Linked DNA regions of Homo sapiens. The protein of the gene in region 2 interacts with the protein of the main gene of each other region in a biochemical or structural test. Each region holds a gene or a part of one and is shown on either strand. Other genes may lie near its edges.

Evidence for each region.
Region 1: the proteins of NYAP1 (region 2) and CYFIP1 form a complex in vitro, tested with the Homo sapiens proteins (one study listed by BioGRID).
Region 3: the proteins of NYAP1 (region 2) and TLN1 interact in a test that uses a peptide from one of them, tested with the Homo sapiens proteins (one study listed by BioGRID).

The regions. Positions count from the first base shown.
Region 1 is NC_000015.10:22,866,552-22,872,975, reverse strand, and holds the end of CYFIP1 (cytoplasmic FMR1-interacting protein 1), read left to right. Parts: intron 1-3; coding exon 4-151; intron 152-2,783; coding exon 2,784-2,948; 3' UTR 2,949-5,924; downstream 5,925-6,424. Other genes in the region: magnesium transporter NIPA2, read right to left, coding at 6,129-6,424. UniProt on the Homo sapiens protein: Component of the CYFIP1-EIF4E-FMR1 complex which binds to the mRNA cap and mediates translational repression. In the CYFIP1-EIF4E-FMR1 complex this subunit is an adapter between EIF4E and FMR1.
Region 2 is NC_000007.14:100,486,647-100,494,253, forward strand, and holds part of NYAP1 (neuronal tyrosine-phosphorylated phosphoinositide-3-kinase adapter 1), read left to right. Parts: intron 1-174; coding exon 175-536; intron 537-1,505; coding exon 1,506-3,020; intron 3,021-3,870; coding exon 3,871-4,083; intron 4,084-4,339; coding exon 4,340-4,449; intron 4,450-6,999; coding exon 7,000-7,257; 3' UTR 7,258-7,607. UniProt on the Homo sapiens protein: Activates PI3K and concomitantly recruits the WAVE1 complex to the close vicinity of PI3K and regulates neuronal morphogenesis.
Region 3 is NC_000009.12:35,722,196-35,729,802, reverse strand, and holds part of TLN1 (talin-1), read left to right. Parts: intron 1-4,075; 5' UTR 4,076-4,108; coding exon 4,109-4,238; intron 4,239-4,481; coding exon 4,482-4,579; intron 4,580-4,843; coding exon 4,844-4,973; intron 4,974-5,078; coding exon 5,079-5,231; intron 5,232-5,468; coding exon 5,469-5,611; intron 5,612-5,723; coding exon 5,724-5,851; intron 5,852-6,881; coding exon 6,882-6,942; intron 6,943-7,579; coding exon 7,580-7,607. UniProt on the Homo sapiens protein: High molecular weight cytoskeletal protein concentrated at regions of cell-matrix and cell-cell contacts. Involved in connections of major cytoskeletal structures to the plasma membrane.

The DNA.
Region 1 (6,424 bases), on a different chromosome or scaffold from region 2:
TAGGCAGTGCTTTGGTGATGGGCTACACTGGGCTGGCTGTATGATCATCGTACTTCTTGGGCAGCAGCGGCGTTTTGCTGTGCTGGATTTCTGCTACCATCTACTTAAAGTCCAGAAACATGATGGCAAAGATGAGATTATTAAAAATGTGGTATGTGGATGAAAATCTCGCACCATCTATGGACCTTTTGCAAAAGCATACTTTCTTTGTGTTATAAGTTCTTGTTTCTGGCAATGTTTTTCATCCTAGTACGTAAGGTGCCACCAACAGAAACTTTCTTTTCGTTCCCAAAATGAATCTAAATATAATTGGCCAGTAAAGCAGTCTGGCAGAGAAAATACTCATTGTTCCGTTTTCCTTCTCAAGGTACTTAGATTTACTTCCAGTCTTACAGGATCTGCATTGTCAGAATATTGGCAACTATAGTCTTCGGGCCCCTGGAAGTCTGTGCTTTCTTGGCTGCTTTAAAGGCCTTTTGTCTTTGTTGCTTTATGGATCCCTCATAGTTGAATTCTGGAAAATACTCAGCCATTATCTTTGAAATATTTCAGCCTCCTTTCCATTCTCCCTATTCTTGCCATTCAGGACTTCAGTTAAACATATGTTAGACCTTCTCATTCTATTCTCCACATCTCTTTGTTGTATCAGTTTTCTTTTTTCTTTCTTTTTTTTTTTTTTTTTGAGACAGTTTCGCTCTTGTTGCTCAGGCTGGGGTGCAATGCCACGATCTTGGCTCACTGCAATCTCTGCTGCCCAGGTTCAAGTGATTCTCCTGCCTCAGCCTCCCGAGTAGCTGGGATTATAGGCACCTGCCACCACGCCCGGCTGATTTTTGTATTTTGTAATTTTGTATTTTTAGTAGAGACTAGGTTTCACCATGTTGGCCAGGCTGATCTTGAACTCCTGACATAAGGTGATCCGCCCACCTCCCAAAGTGCTAGGATTACAGGCGCGCCCAGCCCTGTTGTATTAGTTTTCTATTGCTTCCATGACAACAAATCACCACAGGCTTGGCAGTTTAAATACCACTGATTATCTCACAATTCTCTAAGTCAGATGCCTGAGTTCAGCCAGGCCCAGCTGGGTCCTCTGCTCAGTCTCATGGGGCCAGTGTCTGAGGTGCTGGGTTCACCCTGGAGGCCTTCAAGCTTATGCACAGTTGGCTCAATTATTCCTTGCAGCTGTAGGACTGGGTCCCCCTTCCTTCTCATGCTTTCCAAGTGGCCCCCTCCAGCAATGGTGGGTTGGGCAGTCTCAGCCTCTAGTCTTCTGCCATGTCTCTCCTGCCTCCGGCCAGAGAACATTCCCTGACTGTGACTATATTGAGCCCACTGGACAACCCCAGATACTCTCCCTGTTCTACAGTCCAGTCTTAGCCACACCTGCCCAGGCCCCGTGGAGTGGAGGCAATGCAGTCACAGGCTCCAGGTCATGGGCCTCTCTCAGGGGCCCTTCTGCCTCCCACTCCTCCATTTCCGGGGCTCCCAGAGCTGTGTCCAGATACTGTATTCATGTGTCTTAGTTAACTTGTTTACTTCAGCTCTAATCTGCTGAGCTTTTACTCTGAAAATATTATTAGTTCACTTTTTAAAGTTCAATTAGGTTCTTCAAATCTTCTTGGTAACTGACAGTTTTATTGTCTTAACTGAACTTTTTCCATCTCTTATTTCTTTATCCAATTCATGTATTCTATATTCTGTGTGTTTTCCTTCTAGTATCTGAAGGCCTTGGAGGTATTTAAAACTTTGCTGTTTCCTTGTGTGTTGGGTTATTTGGGAGTCTTTATTTAACTGGAGTTAATTTAGATTGCTTTCCCCCAAGATGTGCATTTGTATCTGCCCATCTCTATGGGGTGCTACCAACTCAGGGCCGCTTTAGCCGAATTGGAGGTCCTGGCTTCACTGGGGAGTCTTCGGTGTGGTCCCGCTTGCTTACGCCCGGGCTGCTCCTCACCCCACCGCCGCTGTTGGCATCTGCCCCTGAGGAGGCCCTGGCTTCCCCCTTACCACCTGCATAGGTAGAACCAGCTTTTCAAAGCGTTTTGTTTGCGTGTATGTTCTTAATTCGTGTTCTTTATTCCTGTGGTAGCAGGAGGGTCTGTCAGAGTATCCCGTCACAGTATTTCCAAACTGGAAGTCTAAAACTTGTGTTAGTTGACTGGCCTTTCTCCACTGACCACATCATCTTCATCTGGAGATCCCCAGCTTTGAGCAGACAGTAGGTTCTTAATTGCCAATGTGGAAGGAATAGGCCTATCAATTGTGCGCATGAATGAATCTACAGCAGCATGAAGCCAACAGAGGGATTCTAAATTCAAAATATATTCATCCTTCCAACTGTTGCATTAAAGAGATGGTATGTGGCTGGGAGTGCTGGCTCATACCTGTAATCCCAACAGTTTGGGAGGCTGAGGCAGAGGAGGATTGCTTGAGCTCAGGAGTTCAAGACCATCCTGGACAGCATAATAAGACCTTGTCTTTACAAAATTAAATTTAAAAATTAGCTGCGTGTGGTGGTACACGCCTGTGGTCCCAGCTACTCAGGAGGCTGAGGTGGGAGGATGTCTTGAGGCTACAGTGAGCCGTGATCATGCCACTGCACTCCAGCCTGGGCGTCAGAGTGAGACCCTATCTTACAAAAAAAAACCCAAAAAGAACAGTATGTGTGTCAATTCCGTTTGCTATTATTTTTCTGAGAAAATATAAGAATCCTGACATTTTGAAACATGAAGAATAAATGTTGAAGTGTTAATAGTAAAACATCCTCACTTTGATGGTTGTAGCCTTTGAAGAAGATGGTGGAGAGAATTCGCAAGTTCCAGATTCTCAATGATGAGATCATCACCATCCTGGATAAGTACCTGAAGTCAGGCGACGGGGAGGGCACGCCAGTGGAGCATGTGCGCTGCTTCCAGCCGCCCATCCACCAGTCCCTCGCCAGCAGCTGAGGGCACGCGCTGCACTCCGTAACTCAACATGGCATGCCTTTCTCTCCGTAAACTATTTAGTGAGATTTTTAGGGACTATTTTTCAGTATCTCTGTACCTGTTAAAGGGGGTGCTTTTCGATCTAAAAACTTAATTTTATAAAATTGACTTATTTTTCTAGACTAAAATTGTATATGCTTTTGGTAATTAGGAACTCTTGAGAATATTGGCTGCTGATTGTTGCCATCACGTTCCTACAAAATTGTTTTTCTATGGGATGTTCTGGCAGCTGTGTCATAAAATGCTGCTGGGTTCATTCATTCATTCCATAAGAAACTTAATACCAGCAAATGCATTAAATCCCTTGCCAGTTACCATTAACTGTAACTATTTAGCTTTTGTTTAGGGATCTTTCTGATGGTCTTTTATGAGCAATCTTAGTTCTAAGTCATTGTTCCCATCCCTTTTTTGTGTGTTTCAGAAAATAGTGAACTTGATTCCCCTGCTTCCACTAAATCCAGTTGTGACAAAATCTAACGTGACATCAGATCGAAAGGTTATAGAAATAAAACTAATGAGATCTATTTGTGTTCATTTATTTACTCTAACCCTGTGCTGCCTGGCTTGGCAAGGAACTCTAACCTGAACTCACATACCAGGCCAGCTGGGATGGAGGTCACCTCTAAGGCTGAGGTGGGATGGGACCGTGACACCATCCCATATACCGCTCACCTCAGCACAGGTTTAGCTTTATATTTAGGGTTCCGCAGGCAAATGAGGTGTAAAACGGCCGTGTTGGCTGCTCCAATCTGGATATGAAGAGGCTACTCAGTGCCTCTCTGTTACCTGTGCCCATGACCTGGAGGAAGCCAGCAATGTGGGAGGAGATCAGTCAGGCCCAGTGGGTGCTGCACAAAGGGACCGGGAGCACCGAGTCCAGCCTTCAGCTGTCCCCGATCCACAGGGCTCACATGGCTGGAGCTGGTTCACATGATCTGTCAGAATGAAAAACAATCGGTCTAGACTACCAGTAGAGTCACGAACATGTTTGAGAAACTAAAGCCATATTTTAAAAAGTACTAAGGCAATGAGGTTCTGAAAATCCTAACTAACTGAATGGAAAAAGATGCTATGCCTGTTTATTGTAGATGAATACTACAGATAAACACAAGTCCAGCATGATTAACTGAACTCACTTTATATTGTAGCCTGGCAGTCATTTTACATTATTTGGAGTATTGCAACCTTCACCAATTTTAAAATTTTCTATGGATGCCAAGTTGCCATAAAAAGCAGGCCTCGCCTACTTTTCCGGAGGCCTTTGGAAACTGTCCAGAAGCATATGATGCACGGCACAGAAAAGTAGTAAGTGTACGAACCATCCTGTTACACTGCCAAACTCACTCAAGTGACATGAAGCCTAACAAACAATTATTCTTTCTTTATAAAAAGTTCCCTAAAAATGCTTTTGGTAATGTGAATTAATAACCCTGGGGCCAGCATTCTGCTGCAGATTTAGAGGTGGTAGCTGTGCTTATCTTAGAAACTACAGAATAGGATGAAAAATTATGGTAAAACTTAATCAATTACCAAGTTTTATAAGGCTTAATTATATACCAAATATGTAATACCTTAGGTATAAGACAATCTCAAGTGCTACAAAATGTTAAATAAGAATTTATTATTTATTAACCTATGCATGTTCAAATGAGTCTCTGTCCTCAAGGGGGAGAAAACTGGTTCTTTTATGTACAAAGCACAGATGTAGGTACAGTATATAAACAGATACGTAGTACATCTGTAGTATTAAAATGGCATGGGAGGAGGCAGTTAGAAAAAACATCTAAAACAGCTCCTTAGAAGGCCAATAATAAAGTTGGAAAAAAGGGAGTTTCCACGCAGCCAGTGGTGAGCTGCATGGGATACCAGCACCATTGGCAGGGGAGGCCCTCGGGGAGTGATGGCTTGGCGCTGGCGCACCACTGGGTAACCTCCAGGCAGGAGCCACAGGCTGGAACAGGCGAACACTTTCTTCCCATCACCTAGGTGGAAATTAATTCTGCCAATACTTTTTTTTAAAGGCCAGTCAATGGTTATGAGTGGATAGGTTCAAAGCTGAATGGAGTTCATTAGACCTTTTTTATTATTCTACCTTTTCTGCATATGTTTGCAGTTTTCCATCGACTTCTTCATAAACAAACATTTTCTAGAAACCAAAATATGTAGTGGCCCAAAGGAGCTCTTAAGCAAAGTACTTGGTACAAAGAGACCATATTCTATAAACATGTTAAGTTTGTTCTAAGCATTCAGACTTTTAGAATAAGAACTTCATTTCAACTTTTTATTATAACATGAGCTAAATTTAAGAAACAACCCTAGTCTTCTATTTCCCAGAGCTGTTCAAAGTCTAAATGACAATATAACTCATTATGAAAATATACTGAAAAGTACAAGAGCTGATGTAAAACGGTAATCAAGGTTCCAGGCATCATGGGATTAGGGTAACTGAAGAATAAACCCAGCCAGGCTGCAACAGCAGGCAGGATGTGCTGGCTTGATGAGGTGCTAAGGCCATCGAATGCTCAGAGGAAGCCGGATTCACGGTGATCATCTCAACCTGAGAAATCGTTCCTTGGGGTGATTTCTGCCCTTTTTTTTGTTTTGTAAGAAAGAGGTTCCTTCATTCAGTAACTTAGTTTTCCCTTAATAAATATTTCAAAAATAAAACCAATCATCATCAAACAAACAGGAGCCACTTTTGTAGGTAAGGTAAATCACAGGATAATGTATTGGGATAACTCTGTTTTTTTAAAATAAAAAAGCCTTACATGGTCAGGGATTGATGGAGTGGGGATGACAAATGCACATTTCAGACTTTCATCACCAATGAAAAAATAAAGCATTTTCATAGACTTAAAACTGTCATTAGTGCATTCGGCTTTTGGAGAAGGGATGAAAATGTAAAATACTTCTACAACAATAAAATGTTAATAGAAATCGTCATGTGCTGAGGTCATTTTAGTGAGCTACCATTGTTTGTTTAAATACAAGAAAAGTAATTTCTTGGTCCAAATTAGTGAAATCTTTAAAAAGATTGCCTTTAAAGAACATTATTTGAGGACAATGTTTTTTCAGACACATTCTGATGATATTCAAATTCACTTCATAACAATCACAGATTAACCTTTAATTACACCTTTCTTAAAAAGCTGTCAGATTTCCATTTCTTCGGGAGACATTTTCACCAGTGTGTTGTTCGATTCCACAGGTTAAGCTTTCTTCATTATTATTAAGAACTTCATACATATTAGAGAGATTGCCATTCATTGCTTTCTCGTCTTTTCGAAAAGACACAGGCAGACTTGCTAGACTAAAGCTGACGTCTTTAAAGGCATGCAACAAGAATATCCCCACAATGATTGTAAAGAAGCCACTCAAAGTACCAATGACATCGTCAACAGGCATATCTTGCCACTCCTTAAAAAGAATAGCTGAAC
Region 2 (7,607 bases):
TCTGCCTGAAGCCCCTTCATTGGTGCCCTGGACCTTCTGGCAACCCTGTCCCCACCCAGGCTCCCGTCCTCTTCCCTGGGAAGCCACAGGGTTGCTGACACCTCTTGGGGTGGAGAAGGGGGATGCCCAGGTCCGAGGCCCTTCCTCCACTCCATCGTGGCCTTCTCTCCCCAGCTCCAGTAAGGAGGTGGCCCCCGCTGGCTCGGCTGGGCCCGCGGCCGGCCAGGGGCCTGGGGTCCGCGTGCGGGACATCGCCTCGCTGCGGCGCTCCCTCAGGATGGGTTTCATGACGATGCCCGCCTCCCAGGAGCACACCCCGCACCCCTGCCGCAGCGCCATGGCCCCACGCTCCCTCTCCTGCCACTCGGTGGGCAGCATGGACAGTGTCGGGGGTGGCCCTGGCGGGGCCAGTGGGGGCCTCACAGAGGACAGCAGCACCCGAAGACCCCCTGCCAAGCCCCGGAGACACCCCAGCACCAAGCTCAGCATGGTGGGGCCTGGGTCTGGGGCAGAGACGCCCCCCAGCAAGAAAGCAGGTGAGATACCCCCTATCTCTCCCTGGGGTGGAGCTGGGAGCTGGGAGGATCTATTCCACGCCCGGGGAGGCTTGCCGGGAGGGTTCATTCAGGGAAGAACCAAGGAAGTGGAAGATTCCATTCTCAAAAGGAATTGGGGGGGTCCTTTTGGATGGGCCTGAGATGAACCATTCAAGGGCAGGGGACACTCCCTGAAAAGTTCTTGAGAAAGGGGTGGTGGCCTCAGAGGGACAATGAAGGTAGGAGCTGCGAATTCTGGAGAATACGTTAGAAAGACTGAGGGCTGTGGGACAAGCCCCGTGGCTCACGCCCGTAATCTCAGCACTTTTTTTTTTTTGAGACAGAGTCTCGCTCTGTTGCCCAGGCAGGAGTGCAGTGGTGCGATCTCAGCTCACTGCATCCTCCGCCTCCCAGGTTCAAGCAGTTCTCCTGCCTCAGCCTCCCAGGTAGCTGGGATTACAGGCGTCCGTCACCACGCCCGGCTAATTTTTTGTATTTTTAGTAGAGACAGGGTTTCGTCTTGTTGGCCAGGCTGACAAGGCCAGGCTTGCTGGCCTCAGGTGATCCACCCACCTCGGCCTCCCAGAGTGCTGGGATTACAGGCGTGAGCCACTGTGCTTGGCCAATTAATTGACGTTTTAAAAAGACCAAGGGCTGACTAGTAGAAAAGGAACCTACAGCTGGGCATGGTGGCTGATGCCTGGAATCCTAGCACTTTAGGAGGCCGAGGCAGGAGGATCCCTTGAGCCCAGGAATTTGGGACCAGTCTGGGCAACATGGCAAGACCCATCTCTATTAAAAAATAAAAAAGAAATGAAGAAACCTCCTGGGGCTGTAAGTTGAGGAATGTGGGGAAAAGGAAGAGGCAGATATGTCCTTGCAGAAGGGTCAAGGGATCAGAATGGGCTCCTCCCACTTGCTCCCCTCATTAAAAGCCTGGTTTATTTTTCTCTTTCTTGTCCTGTCCAGGCTCACAGAAGCCAACCCCAGAGGGCCGAGAGTCCAGCCGGAAGGTTCCTCCGCAGAAGCCCAGGCGAAGCCCTAACACCCAGCTCTCTGTCTCCTTCGATGAGTCCTGCCCCCCAGGCCCCTCTCCTCGAGGGGGGAACCTGCCTCTTCAGCGCCTCACTAGGGGGTCCCGAGTAGCTGGGGACCCTGATGTGGGTGCCCAGGAAGAGCCTGTGTACATTGAGATGGTGGGGGACGTCTTTAGGGGAGGAGGACGAAGTGGAGGAGGCCTGGCTGGGCCCCCTCTTGGGGGTGGGGGCCCGACCCCTCCAGCGGGCGCCGACTCGGACTCTGAAGAGAGTGAGGCCATCTATGAAGAGATGAAGTACCCGCTGCCGGAAGAGGCTGGGGAAGGCCGGGCCAATGGCCCTCCACCATTGACGGCAACATCCCCGCCACAACAGCCTCACGCCCTTCCGCCCCATGCCCACCGCCGCCCAGCTTCAGCCCTCCCGAGCCGGAGGGACGGGACGCCCACCAAGACCACTCCTTGTGAAATCCCCCCGCCCTTCCCCAACCTCCTTCAGCACCGGCCTCCACTCCTGGCCTTCCCCCAAGCCAAGTCTGCTTCCCGAACCCCTGGCGATGGGGTCTCAAGGCTACCTGTCCTCTGCCACTCCAAGGAGCCAGCCGGCTCCACCCCAGCTCCCCAAGTGCCTGCACGGGAGCGGGAGACGCCTCCCCCACCGCCTCCACCTCCTGCTGCCAACCTGCTGCTGCTGGGACCATCGGGCCGGGCCCGGAGCCACTCGACACCGTTGCCACCCCAGGGCTCTGGCCAGCCCCGGGGGGAGCGGGAGCTCCCCAACTCCCACAGCATGATCTGCCCTAAGGCGGCGGGGGCGCCGGCAGCCCCCCCTGCCCCGGCCGCCTTGCTCCCCGGCCCCCCCAAGGACAAGGCCGTGTCTTACACCATGGTGTACTCGGCGGTCAAGGTGACCACGCACTCTGTCCTGCCAGCTGGTCCACCCCTGGGTGCTGGGGAGCCAAAGACGGAGAAGGAGATCTCGGTCCTCCATGGGATGCTGTGTACCAGCTCAAGGCCCCCTGTGCCAGGGAAGACCAGCCCCCACGGTGGGGCCATGGGCGCAGCAGCTGGGGTCCTCCACCACCGCGGCTGCCTGGCCTCCCCCCACAGCCTTCCGGACCCAACTGTAGGCCCCCTGACCCCGCTGTGGACCTACCCAGCCACAGCAGCTGGGCTCAAGAGACCCCCTGCCTATGAGAGCCTCAAGGCTGGGGGGGTGCTGAATAAGGGCTGTGGTGTGGGGGCCCCATCCCCCATGGTCAAGATCCAGCTGCAGGAGCAAGGGACCGATGGGGGTGCTTTTGCCAGCATCTCCTGTGCCCACGTCATCGCCAGCGCAGGGACACCAGAGGAGGAAGAAGAGGAGGTGGGCGCCGCGACATTTGGGGCAGGCTGGGCCCTGCAGAGGAAGGTCCTCTATGGAGGGAGAAAAGCAAAGGAGTTGGACAGTGAGTGAGGGGTGGGGAGTGGGGGCTGGCATCAGGGGTGGGGGGCAGCTGGGGATGCCTGCGATGGTTTGGGGGAGGTGTTGGAGGGGTTATTTGGAAGTCACAGCCTTGAGTCTGGGATGTTTTCTAGGAGACCAGAGAGGTGGGGGTGGGCGATAGACAGAAAGACCGGGGTCCCCCAGTGTGCGCTGGAGGGGCAGGAAGGTCTGGGAGGCGAAGGGGGTCAAATCTGGCCCTGTCCTGCTCTGCTCCCTGCCCCTCCCTTCCCGGGGCTGCAGGGGTGTGTGCTTGTGAGTGTGCGCACCAGGAACTAAACACAGCTGCCTCCCAGCTGTTACCATGGCAACCCATCCAGACAGGAGGGAGAGGAGAGGGAGGCCCCTACCGTTGCCTGGCAACGCAATGCTCTGCCAGGCCTCCTCTCAGAGATGAGCTTAGTTCACAGGCAGCCCTTCCCCCCAGCGCTCCCCCTTCTGGGCTCAGGAATTGGGATTCTCCCCCTACAGGTCTTGATCCCAGGGGGATGGTCATTCTCGCCCTATCTGGAGATGGAGGGGCTTGGAAGCTAAAGCTGCGGTTGGGGAGGCCCCTCTGACCAGGGAAAAGGGTTTGGATGCAGCACATAGACATGATTCTCAGCCCCAAGAGATGGTACCAATGGGTGGAAAGGAAGGGGTGTGTGTGTGTTTGTATGTATGTTGGGGGAGTGTGAAGGAGCCCCATCCCAGCCGTTACTTGCAAAAGGGGCAATTGTGTCTCCTGGTCCACCCATACTGCAGCATGTGTGGCCAGAGGGACAGAATGACGCCTCCAACATGCAGGCACACAGCTCTCCTTGTCATCCCAGCAGAGGTCGAGGACGGTGCCCGGGCCTGGAATGGCAGTGCCGAGGGTCCAGGCAAGGTGGAGCGTGAGGACAGGGGCCCTGGGACATCGGGGATCCCAGTGAGAAGCCAGGGGGCAGAGGGACTGCTGGCCAGGATCCACCATGGAGACCGAGGAGGGAGCCGCACCGCGCTGCCCATTCCCTGCCAGACCTTCCCCGCCTGCCACCGCAATGGAGGTGACGCGGCCTGCACACACCTGTGCACAGCGGGGCTGGCTGGGGGATCTCCCGGGGTCTAGCTGCACCTGTCCTGACTTCCTCTCACCTGTTCACGTCTGTGCCCAGGGCCCTAAATCCTCATACCACATCTCCACCCCTTTTTCCCTTCTGATGAGGCAGGGGCAGCCTGGACCATTCAAGGGCAGGGGACTGGGAACTAGGGGAGGGGTACCTGAGGCCCCTGCACTCCTCACTCCTCCTTCTTCCACCTCAGACTTCACGGGAGGCTACCGCCTGGGGCGCTCCGCCTCCACCTCCGGAGTCCGGCAGGTCGTGCTCCACACACCCCGGCCCTGCAGCCAGCCCAGGGATGCCCTGAGCCAGGTGAGGCTTGGTTTTTCTTTTATTTGTGAAGGAGCAGGTGGAGAAGGCTTGAATATGCAAAGAAAAGCAATAAAGGGGCCAGGGCTGGGCACAGTGGCTCATGCCTGTAATCCCAGCACTTTGGGAGGCCAAGGTGGGAGGGTCACTTGAGGCCAGAAGTTCATTAGCTTGAGCAACATAGTGAGACCCTGTCTCTATTTTTTCTTTTTTTTAAAAGAAGGCTAGTTGCAGTGGCTCACACCTGTAATCCCAATGCTTTCAGAAGCCAAGGCAGGTAGATTGCTTGAGCCCAGGAGGTCGAGACCAGCCTGGACCACATAGTGAGATCCCATCTCTATAAAAAATGCAAAATGTAGTCAGGTGTGCCGTCGCAAGCCTGAATTCCCAGCTACTCTGGAGGTTGAGGTAGGAAGATGGCTTTACCCTGGGAGGTGGAGGTTGCATTGAGCCATGATCACGCTACTGCGTTCCAGTCTGAGCCACAGAGTGAGACCCTGTCTTAGAAGAAAAAAAAAAAAAGAAAGAAAGGGGCCAGGCAGGGTGCGGTGGCTTACGCCTGTAATCACAGCACTTTGGGAGGCCGAGGCGGGCAGATCACTTGAGGTCAGGAGTTTGAGACCAGCCTGGCCAATGTGGTGAAACCCTGTCTCTACTAGAAATACAAAAATTAGGGCCAGGTGCGGTGGCTCATGCCTGTAATCCCAGCAGTTTGGGAGGCTGAGGCGAGTGGATCACAAGGTCAGGAGTTCAAGACTAGCCTGACCAACATAGTGAAATCCCATCTGTACTAAAAATACAAAAATTAGCCGGGCGTGGTAGCGCACGCCTGTAGTCCCAGCTACTCGGGAGGCAGAGGCATAAGAATCGCCTGAACCCGGGAGACGGAGGTTGCAGTAAGCCAAGATCGCACCACTGCACTCCAGTGGCCTGGGCAACAGAGAGAGACTCTGTCTCAAAAAAAACCAAAAAACAAAAAACAAAAACCCCACAGAAATTAGCTGGACATTGGGGCAGGCACCCGTAATCCCAGCTACTCGGGAGGCTGAGGCAGGAGAATTGCTTGAACCCGGGAGACGGAGGCTGCAGTGAGCCAAGATCATGCCACTGCACTCCAGCCTGGGCGACAGAGTTAGACTCTGTCTCAAAAAAAAAAAAAGGGGCCAGGCAGACTGGGGCCTGAGCCAGCGCAGACAGCGGGAACCCAGGAATGAGAGTGAGGGGGTTGGGAGAGGATCTGGGAAGGGTTTGAGGGTTTGCTTAAGATGGGCAGCAAGGTAGGGCCCAGCTTGGAGATCAGTCAGGGCCACCACTAGCCAACAGCACACCTTTGTGCGATTTAGGAAAAAGACCTCCCCACTGGGCACTATGTCTTGTGCCTGCAATCCCAGAACTGTGGGAGGCAGAGACGGGAGGATCGCTTGAACCCAGGAGGCTGAGGTTGCAATGAACTACGATCCCACCACAGCACTCTATCCTGGGTGTAAGGGCAAGACCGTGTCTCAAAAGAAATAAAAATAAAGAGGTCAAGCATGGTAGCTTACGCCTATAATCCTAGTACTTTGGGAGGCCGAGCCAAGAGAAGTGGTTGAGCCTAGGAATTCTGTACCAGCCTGGGCGACATAGGGAGACCCTGTCTTTACAAAAAATTTAAAAATTATCCAGACATGCTGGTGCATGCTTGTGGTTCCAGCAACTCTGAAGGCTGAGGCAGGAGAATCACTTGAGCCTGGGAGGTGGAGGTTGCAGTGAGCCATGGTCGTTCCACTGCACTCCAGCCTGGGTGGCAGAGGGAGAACCTGTCAAAAGAAAGAAAAAGAGAGAGAGTGAGAGAAAGAAGGAAGAAAGAGAGAAGGAGAGAAAGAGAGAAAGAAAGCAAGCAAGAAAGAAAAGAAAGCAAGAAAGAAAAGAGAAAGAAAGAAAGGGAGGAAAGGAGGAAGGGAGGGACCTTGTCTACCCTTGCCCCAGCTGGACACGGTAGTTGATACCTGTGATCCCAGTGCTTTGGGAGGCCAAGATGAGAGGATCCCTTGAGGCCAGGAGTTCAAGACCAGGCTTGGCAACAAAGCAAGATCCCATAAATACAAAAATAAACTTTAATTTAATTTTTTAACAATTAGCTGGTGTAGTGGTAAATGCCTGTAGTCCCAGCTACTTGGGAGGGAGGCTGACACTGGAGGATTGCTTGAGCCCAGGAGGTCGAGGCTGCAGTGAGCTATGATTGCACCACTGCACTCTGGCCTGGGCGACAGAGCCAGACCCTGTCTCAAAAAGACAAAAGAAAGAAAAAAAAGGGGAGATCCCTTCTAGGGGGACCAACTTAAAAAATGCACCTGTCTAGGAAGACTAGGGAGTGGCTGGGCCAAAGCTGCGCAAGTTGGATTTTGGCCCCCATGGGCCCCACAGCCAGAGGGAGCCAGCAGAGGCCGTTGGGGGGCAAGCAAGGACTTGCTTCTGAGGGGAGACGTGGGTCTCGGCAGTGCGGACCCGTCCGGTCATGCTGAGGTCCCCGACCTTACCCGCGTTTTCCTTTCTCCCCCGCCCGCGGCACAGCCCCACCCCGCGCTGCCGCTGCCTCTGCCCCTGCCGCCCCAGCCGGCCCGCGAGCGTGACGGGAAGCTGCTGGAGGTGATCGAGCGCAAGCGCTGCGTGTGCAAGGAGATCAAGGCGCGCCACCGCCCGGACCGAGGCCTCTGCAAGCAGGAGAGCATGCCCATCCTCCCCAGCTGGCGGCGGGGACCCGAGCCCCGCAAGTCCGGCACCCCGCCCTGCCGCCGGCAGCACACGGTCCTCTGGGACACCGCCATCTGAGGCGGGCGGGGGGGTACCGGGGCGCCTGGACTGGGGAGGGGGCGGGCACGCCTGGCTCTCCCGGGAGCCTCGCCTTGAGAGACATTGAAAGACTACGTGGGAGAGTGCCAGGGAGAACCCCTGCCCTCCAACCTACCCCCCGGGATGGGGAGAGTCTGCCAGGCCCATTGGGCTTAGGATGCCAACAGCGCTGCTGAGAAACGGAGGAGGAGGAGGGTTTGCTTGAGGTTGGGGCGAGAGTCGCTCTGGCTGTTCTTCCCGCTGGGCGTTGTACACCCCTCCTCCTGAACCAAGCCAGAGGTCAGCATGGGGAAGGGAGGAAGGAAGGGATGGGAGGAAGAGGGGGGTGG
Region 3 (7,607 bases), on a different chromosome or scaffold from region 2:
TCCCCTCTTCCCAATTCGTCGCCTAAACTCAAGCTGCCCCAGCCGCTAAAGTGGCTGCTGATGATAGGAAGCTGTGGGACTCTAACCTGTCTACCTTAGTAGTTATTAGGTCCTGTCATTTCTACCTCCCCAAACTTGTTCTGAGTGACATCTTCCTCAATGCCATTCCAACTCCGGCTTCATTACCTTTAATTTGTACTAATACAGTGTCCTTCTAACTAATCTCCAAGGTAACTGCCAGAGTTATTTTTCTAAAATCCAGTTCCGGTTATGTCTCTTCTCTGCTCAAAGACTCCCTTGGCTTCCTTTTGTCCTCCAATAAGTAAAATTCCTCATACCCCTCTCCAGTCTTCCTCTGCCTTTCCATCCTAACCCTGACTTCCCCACCACTGCTCCCTTGCAGGTACCCCTGTGCTTCAACAGCCTGCCTGCTCACTTCCCTGAATGCTCCTCCACGATTTACTGCTTCTCCATCTTTGCTTATGCTATTTCTCTGCCTGGAGTGAAAACTACCCCTGACACATCTCCAGCTGGCTGGCGTAGTGGAGAAAGCTTGGGCTTTGCAGTCAGAAACCTGGGTTCGGATCCTGGCTTCACAACTTATTATTTGGAGAAGTATTTGAACAAGTATTTAACATCTTTGAGTCTGTTTTCTGATCTGTAAAAATGGAAATAATGACACCTACTGTAAGGATTAAATGAAATTATGTATACAATGCAAGTGACATAGTCAATAAATGGCAGATCACTATTGTTTTTTATTATCTCTATTTTTTAAAATTCTAGCTTCAAATGATACTTATCATGGAGACTTTTTGGTTCCCCTTCCCTGACCTAAAGGGATCTCTCTGAGCACACACCTTTTGGCTCTTACCACATCCTGCCCTCCGTTGTGATTCTGTACTTGGCTTATTCACTCATCTCGTGGACTGGGAGCCCTTTGAACTCAAAGGCTAGGTCTTACTGATCTTGGTCCCCAGCCACTGAAAGTTTGGCCCAGGGTCTTCCCCACAGCTGGCCCTCAAGGAATGCTTGCTGGGTGAATGGAGAATGTCTACATAATGGGAGGAGAGACACTGGGTGCCGGGTGTGCTTGTTATGGAGGTTATCTGTGCAAAAGCTGTGTGCATAGGATGGGCTCCCTAGGAGAAGATAATGCAGTCGTGATGGGATCTGTGTGGGGGCTGTGTGATTGAGATAATGTGTGTATAGAGAGAGTAAGGTAGCTTTGTGGGAAAGAGCTCTGCCTAGGCTGGGGTGCATCTGGGGAGAATGAGTGTGCATTTGAGTATGGAGGGGCTGTACCGGGGGAAGTTCTGTGCAGCCCTTCAGCTAGCTGCCCAGTCCAGCTCTAAATGAGTCTCCAGCAGCCTGAGGCCGGATATGTCAGTCTCACCCACAGCCCTCCCCCACTGCCAGCGGTTGCGGACTCAGAGGCCAAATTTGGTAACAGACTGAGTGTTACTCCCCCATCCCTCTTATATTCTGACTGTCTTAAGCTCTTTCCTTTTGTTCCTGTCTGTAACTCCCTATCTTTCTGCAATTCCCCTTGTGGGTATCTGCTCTGACTATATTCTCCAAGTACCCCAACTTTCTTAGCTCCAATACTCTTACATTCCATTCCTTGCTGGGATTTGACCTCCTGTCCTCCATTCCCCCCCTCCAATTGCCCAACTTCTTTGGAATGCATCGCAGGAATGTATTGAGGGAGGAGGAGTTCCCTGGGAGGGGGACACGGCAGTGGGGAGTTGCTGTTCCATCAAACACAATGGAAAAGGGAGCAAAGTTCTCAGGCCAAAGGAGGAATGAGCTAGCTTCTACTCATACTTGTAGCAGCCTTGTTCTTTGCCACCACCACCCACAATTCACTGATCAGTTCTTCGCGTCCACACACCCTCTTGTAGCTGTGTGAATATCCACTCTGGACCAGCTGGGGAGTAAGGGTAGGCATGACTCAGCTCCCTTATCGGGGTCTCACCAGAGGCTTCCGTGCTTGAGGAGGAAGGGGGTGTCTAAGTGTCCAGAGGAAATGGGGGGAGACATGCAGTTTCAGCTTAGTGTGAAGGGTCCTTTCAGTCCTGCTTCTTGGCTCCACAGACTCCTCCAGCTTCTCGGATCCACCAGCCCAGCCCTCATTCTTTCATGGTCAGCAACCCCATAGCCAGGTCTGTCCAGCTGGGACACAAGCGGATAGTAATAAGGTTGGGCAAAGTGCCCCAGGAGTGGGGAGGGGGCAGAGAGCTGGAACTGGGGAGACTGGGAGGGTCCTCTCTTATTGGGGAGTAAAGACAGAGAGCTGTGGTTCTTCTCTTTTGAGACTCTGGACTGCTTGTAAGGTCAGAAATGGTCTATCTGCCACTTGGTACCAGACCGCTGATCTAGACCATTTTCATACCTGCCTCCTGTCTCTTGTTTCTACTTAGATTTTCAATTCTCCTCATCCCATCTCTCCTAACTTCTTTACCCTCTACCCCTTCTTAACTTCCCTGGCTTTCAAATGCCTTCTGTATCCTAACACCCCCATCTCTGCTTTCCAGCCTTCCCCTCTCACCCTGCTTTTCCCCATTTGAGGCTTGTAGTTTGCCAGGAGGGGAATGGGCAGCTTGTATTTGCCCATTCTCTTAGTTAAGAGGCACCCAATCCCTGTACCAAGCAGGGGCACATCAGCAGCAGCCGGGCAGACTTGTCCTCTTGCAGCCTGTGCGCCACCTGCTGCCTCCAGTGCCTCCTCTAGCCTGCTGAGAGGGGGTGCCAGGAGGGTGGAAGAAGGTGGGGTAGGACTAGTATTCTGAGCTGCACTGAAAATACAGTCAGGGGAAGTGGGTGAGACAGAGCAGAATTCGAGACAGACTTGCTGAAGAGGAGAAAGCATGGGAGGAGTTGCAGGACTGAGTATTAACTTGATGACTTGGAACAAGCAAGGACTGAGTTACAGGGACTGGGTCCTTTCTCTGGCCTGTCTTGAAAATGTTTCCTGGCCTCCCAGAGTCTATTTCCCCTTCTCCAAAACACAAGAGTTGACCAGATAACTTCTGAGATAGATCCCTTTGAGTTAGAGAATCACATTTCTAGCTTGACTGCCTGGGAAGCCCAGTACAGGGCTAGGCTCCTTCAGAAGGCCCCCGCATCTCAGGTTAGAAAAAAGCTGGGGCAAGAGCGGACCCCTGAATGGCTTGAGCAACCAGTATTTGGTCTCCCTGCCAGGCTAGCTAGAGTTTGTTTGCAGGCTTCAAGAGCCTTAGGGAATTATAACATCTTCATTTTGCAGAGAAGGCAGCTAAAGCCATGAGAAGGAAGGTCACGTGGTGAGAAGAGAGCTCTGAAAATCCCGGACAGGGAAGAGCCAGCAGGACACAGCAGGAGACAAAGAGAGAAAAATACTGAACCAGGCAAAAATGAAAAGAAGGCAGGAGTAGGGCTGAGAAAGGTGATCAGGGACAAGGGGCAAGAGAGATACTTGGATGAAAGTAGGGAGGTACAAATTCCAGTGGTGGGGCAGGGCAGTGTCCTCAGGTAGCACTGCATTTCAGACCTGCTATTGTACCTTGCAGACCAGCTTCTCCTTTCCCTCAGATGTCTTAAATTGTTAGGACTTGGCCGGGCGTGGTGGCTCACGCCTGTAATCCCAGCACTTGGGGAGGCCAAGGTGGATCACGAGGTCAGGAGATCGAGACCATCCTGGCTAACATGGTGAAACCCCGTCTCTACTAAAAATACAAAAAATTAGCCAGGCATGGCAGCGGGCGCCTGTAGTCCCAGCTACTGGGGAGGCTGAGACAGGAGAATGGCGTGAATCCAGGAGGCGGAGCTTGCAGCGAGCTGAGATCGCACCACTGTACTCTAGCCTGGGCAACAGAACGAAACTCTGTCTCAAAAAAAAAAATTGTCAGGACTCATTCTTTTGATGTAAATAATTTTTCACTCTTTAAAATTATTAAATACAATGAAAACAACCTTATTACCATCTACTTTGGTGAGTCCCTTTCAAAAACACTCTTCCCTTGGACTCCACCATCTGGGGGGCCTCTTCTCCCACCAGAAGAGTGTATTCTAATGCCCTGATGCCATGGGTCAGGTATAGCCAGGCTGGAGAAAAGAAGCTGCCACCATGGTTGCACTTTCACTGAAGATCAGCATTGGGAATGTGGTGAAGACGATGCAGTTTGAGCCGTCTACCATGGTGTACGACGCCTGCCGCATCATTCGTGAGCGGATCCCAGAGGCCCCAGCTGGTCCTCGTGAGTCTGACTCCCCCGGTGGCTGGAGTGGGAGTCTTCAGTCCCTTCTTGTTCCCAGGCTCTCGGCCTTGAGAGTTGACCCCTTTGTCCCCTAAGACTACTCACCCCTCAGGTCTGTGTTCCATGGTTCCCTCGTTCTTTAGGCCCAAGGTCATGGGAGAAATAGTCAGGGGCAACATGGTACAAGCTGTTCAGCCACATTGGGGTCTTCATAAGCCTAAAGTGATCCATCCTCTCTTTTAGCCAGCGACTTTGGGCTCTTTCTGTCAGATGATGACCCCAAAAAGGGTATATGGCTGGAGGCTGGGAAAGCTTTGGACTACTACATGCTCCGAAATGGGGTAAGTATCCTTTCATCAAGGACCACCACATCCCCTTCCATCAGCTTCTCCCTGTTCCACCTCCTGTTTTCAGCACCCACATCTGTTGTCTCTTAGCCCTCCCCATGCTTTCTTCCTATTAACAGACAGTCATAATTCCCTGCTTTTGAACGAACCACCATAGTCTTCCTTTCAGTGCTCCACTCTCTCCCCTCGGGCTGTGTAAAGAGGAAATAATACCCCTAGCTCAGAGTAGGCCCCTGTCTCTTCTTCCTGCCCTAACAGGACACTATGGAGTACAGGAAGAAACAGAGACCCCTGAAGATCCGTATGCTGGATGGAACTGTGAAGACGATCATGGTGGATGACTCTAAGACTGTCACTGACATGCTCATGACCATCTGTGCCCGCATTGGTAAGGGGCCCTAGTACAGTTGAAAGCCTGGGCCAGAAAGCCTCAACTCTCTCAAAAGGCATGGATGCAGTACCTGGGAAGCTAACAAGCCATCTCCTTCCTCAGGCATCACCAATCATGATGAATATTCATTGGTTCGAGAGCTGATGGAAGAGAAAAAGGAGGAAATAACAGGGACCTTAAGAAAGGACAAGACATTGCTGCGAGATGAAAAGAAGATGGAGAAACTAAAGCAGAAATTGCACACAGATGATGAGTGTAAGCAGAACTAGAAAAAAGAGGGCTTTTGAAATGGGAAGGGTGGGAAGGGGCTTCAGCATCTGCTTCTGCCAGGCACTGTTTTACACCCTGGGGATACATCAGTGAGAAAACAAAGTCCTACACTCATGGGACTTACATTTAAGTGAGGGGAGGTAGGAAATGCAGAAATAAACAGAGACCAGACAGCACAGGGGCCATGGGGGTTTGGCACTGAGGGGACTGTCTGTATCCCAGTGAACTGGCTGGACCATGGTCGGACACTGAGGGAGCAGGGTGTAGAGGAGCACGAGACGCTGCTGCTGCGGAGGAAGTTCTTTTACTCAGACCAGAATGTGGATTCCCGGGACCCTGTACAGCTGAACCTCCTGTATGTGCAGGTATGCAGAGGACTTGGCTGGGGTGGGGCAGGAATAGGGAGGGCTCGGAAGCACAGTGTGCGTGTCCTTGCACCCACACACAACATTCGCCTCCTTGCCCTGTGCTCTCCAGGCACGAGATGACATCCTGAATGGCTCCCACCCTGTCTCCTTTGACAAGGCCTGTGAGTTTGCTGGCTTCCAATGCCAGATCCAGTTTGGGCCCCACAATGAGCAGAAGCACAAGGCTGGCTTCCTTGAGTGAGTGACCCACATCCTATACCCTGTCAGGGCCCAGGACTCCCTGCCATTGTGACCCCAGTGGGCCTGTCTCCATTCCAAGCCTGCCCCCCACTATTTCTTCTTCCGAGGTACCAGGGTTTGACCAACATAGCTACCCTTTTAGTTGCCATCATCCATTGTCTCTTCTCTGCCTCTGGAATATGAATGTAGTTCAGTATCTCTGCCCCTACCCCCATCTCTGAAGCAAGCATGTCACTCTTTTTTGAGATTATCTGAAGAATTTTGCTGCAGTAGCCAGAGGGAAACCGGGTAAAATTTTCCCTATAGGGAACATGGGTTAAAAGTCTCACAAGCCTCATCTGCTGGTGTTTCTTGGAATGCAGAGTTTGGCGTGGCTTTCTCAGCTTCCTAAGTGCATGTTCATCCTTCTAGAAAGCTCTTTCTCCTCTTGGTTCCCTGAAATGGTGCTCTAGACCCACTTTCCCTCAGGGACTGAGCCTCTAACTTAATTTTCCTCAGTCCCTTTCCCTACAGGGAGAGACACAGGTCACATTAAGAATTCATACTGGCCAGGCTCGGTGGCTCACACCTGTAATCCCAGCACTTTGGGAGGCCAGGGCGGGCAGATCACCTGAGGTCGGGAGTTCGAGACCAGCCTGACCAACGTGGAGAAACCATGTATCTCTACTAAAAATACAAAATTAGCCAGGCGTGGTGGCACATGCCTGTAATCCCAGCTACTCGGGAGGCTGAGGCAGGAGAATCACTTGAACCTGGGAGGTGGAGGTTTTGGTGAGCTGAGATCGTGCCATTGCACTCCAGCCTGGGCAACAAGAGTGAAACTCCATCTCAAAAAAAAAAAAGAAGAGTTTACACGAAGTCACCTCTATTTCAGAAGATAATCTAGACTCTATTCCCTCAGAGTCTTTTTTCTCCCCAAAGATAACACTGTCCTAGGTATTTCCTCATACCCCCAGGCCCACAGTTCATGGCCCACATGTCCCCTGATGCTGTCTACCACATGCTGACCCTCCCTTTTCTGGTGTAGCCTGAAGGACTTCCTGCCCAAGGAGTATGTGAAGCAGAAGGGAGAGCGTAAGATCTTCCAGGTGAATGTGGGTAGGGGAAAGTATTTGGGATGACCGCGGAGCTTTGCTGCTTAATCTTACTGACTAAATGGCCCCCTGCCTCCTCCCCGTCTCCCCTAACTTGGCTTTCACCCACCGGGCTGTTATCCCACCTCACCTCTGCCAAGAAAGCAGACAGCTTGGGCTTTTAGTCTCAGCTCCATCCCTGCTTTTGCTGTGCAATTCAGTTCAATATTCTTGTAATCTTTTATTTACCTCTGATTTGGGATAACAGTACTTGCCCCGTGTAGGACTGATAGGATCAAATGAGGTAGCATAATCTGAAATTACTGTGAAAGAGTATAGTCTTTGTCCACTATAAGGTGTTACCCCCACTCTGAATACTCAGCCCAGAAGGCCTTCTCTTTGCCCTTCTACTTCCAAACTCTCTGTTCATATCTCCAGAATGTCTGCAAGTTCCTTGACTGTATCCCTTGACTCATCGCTTCTGCATAGCCCTTATCAGCCTCCATCCCGTTACCCTCTCGTTCTCATATCTTGTACTCCTCAACCTTTCCAGTGTCCCCATAATTCTCTCTCGTTAGAGTTAGCATCCAACCTTAATTCCTTAGCTGTGATATGAAACTCTTTGCTAAATTCTTCCCCATTTTATGCACAGGCACACAAGAATTGTGGGCAGATGAGTG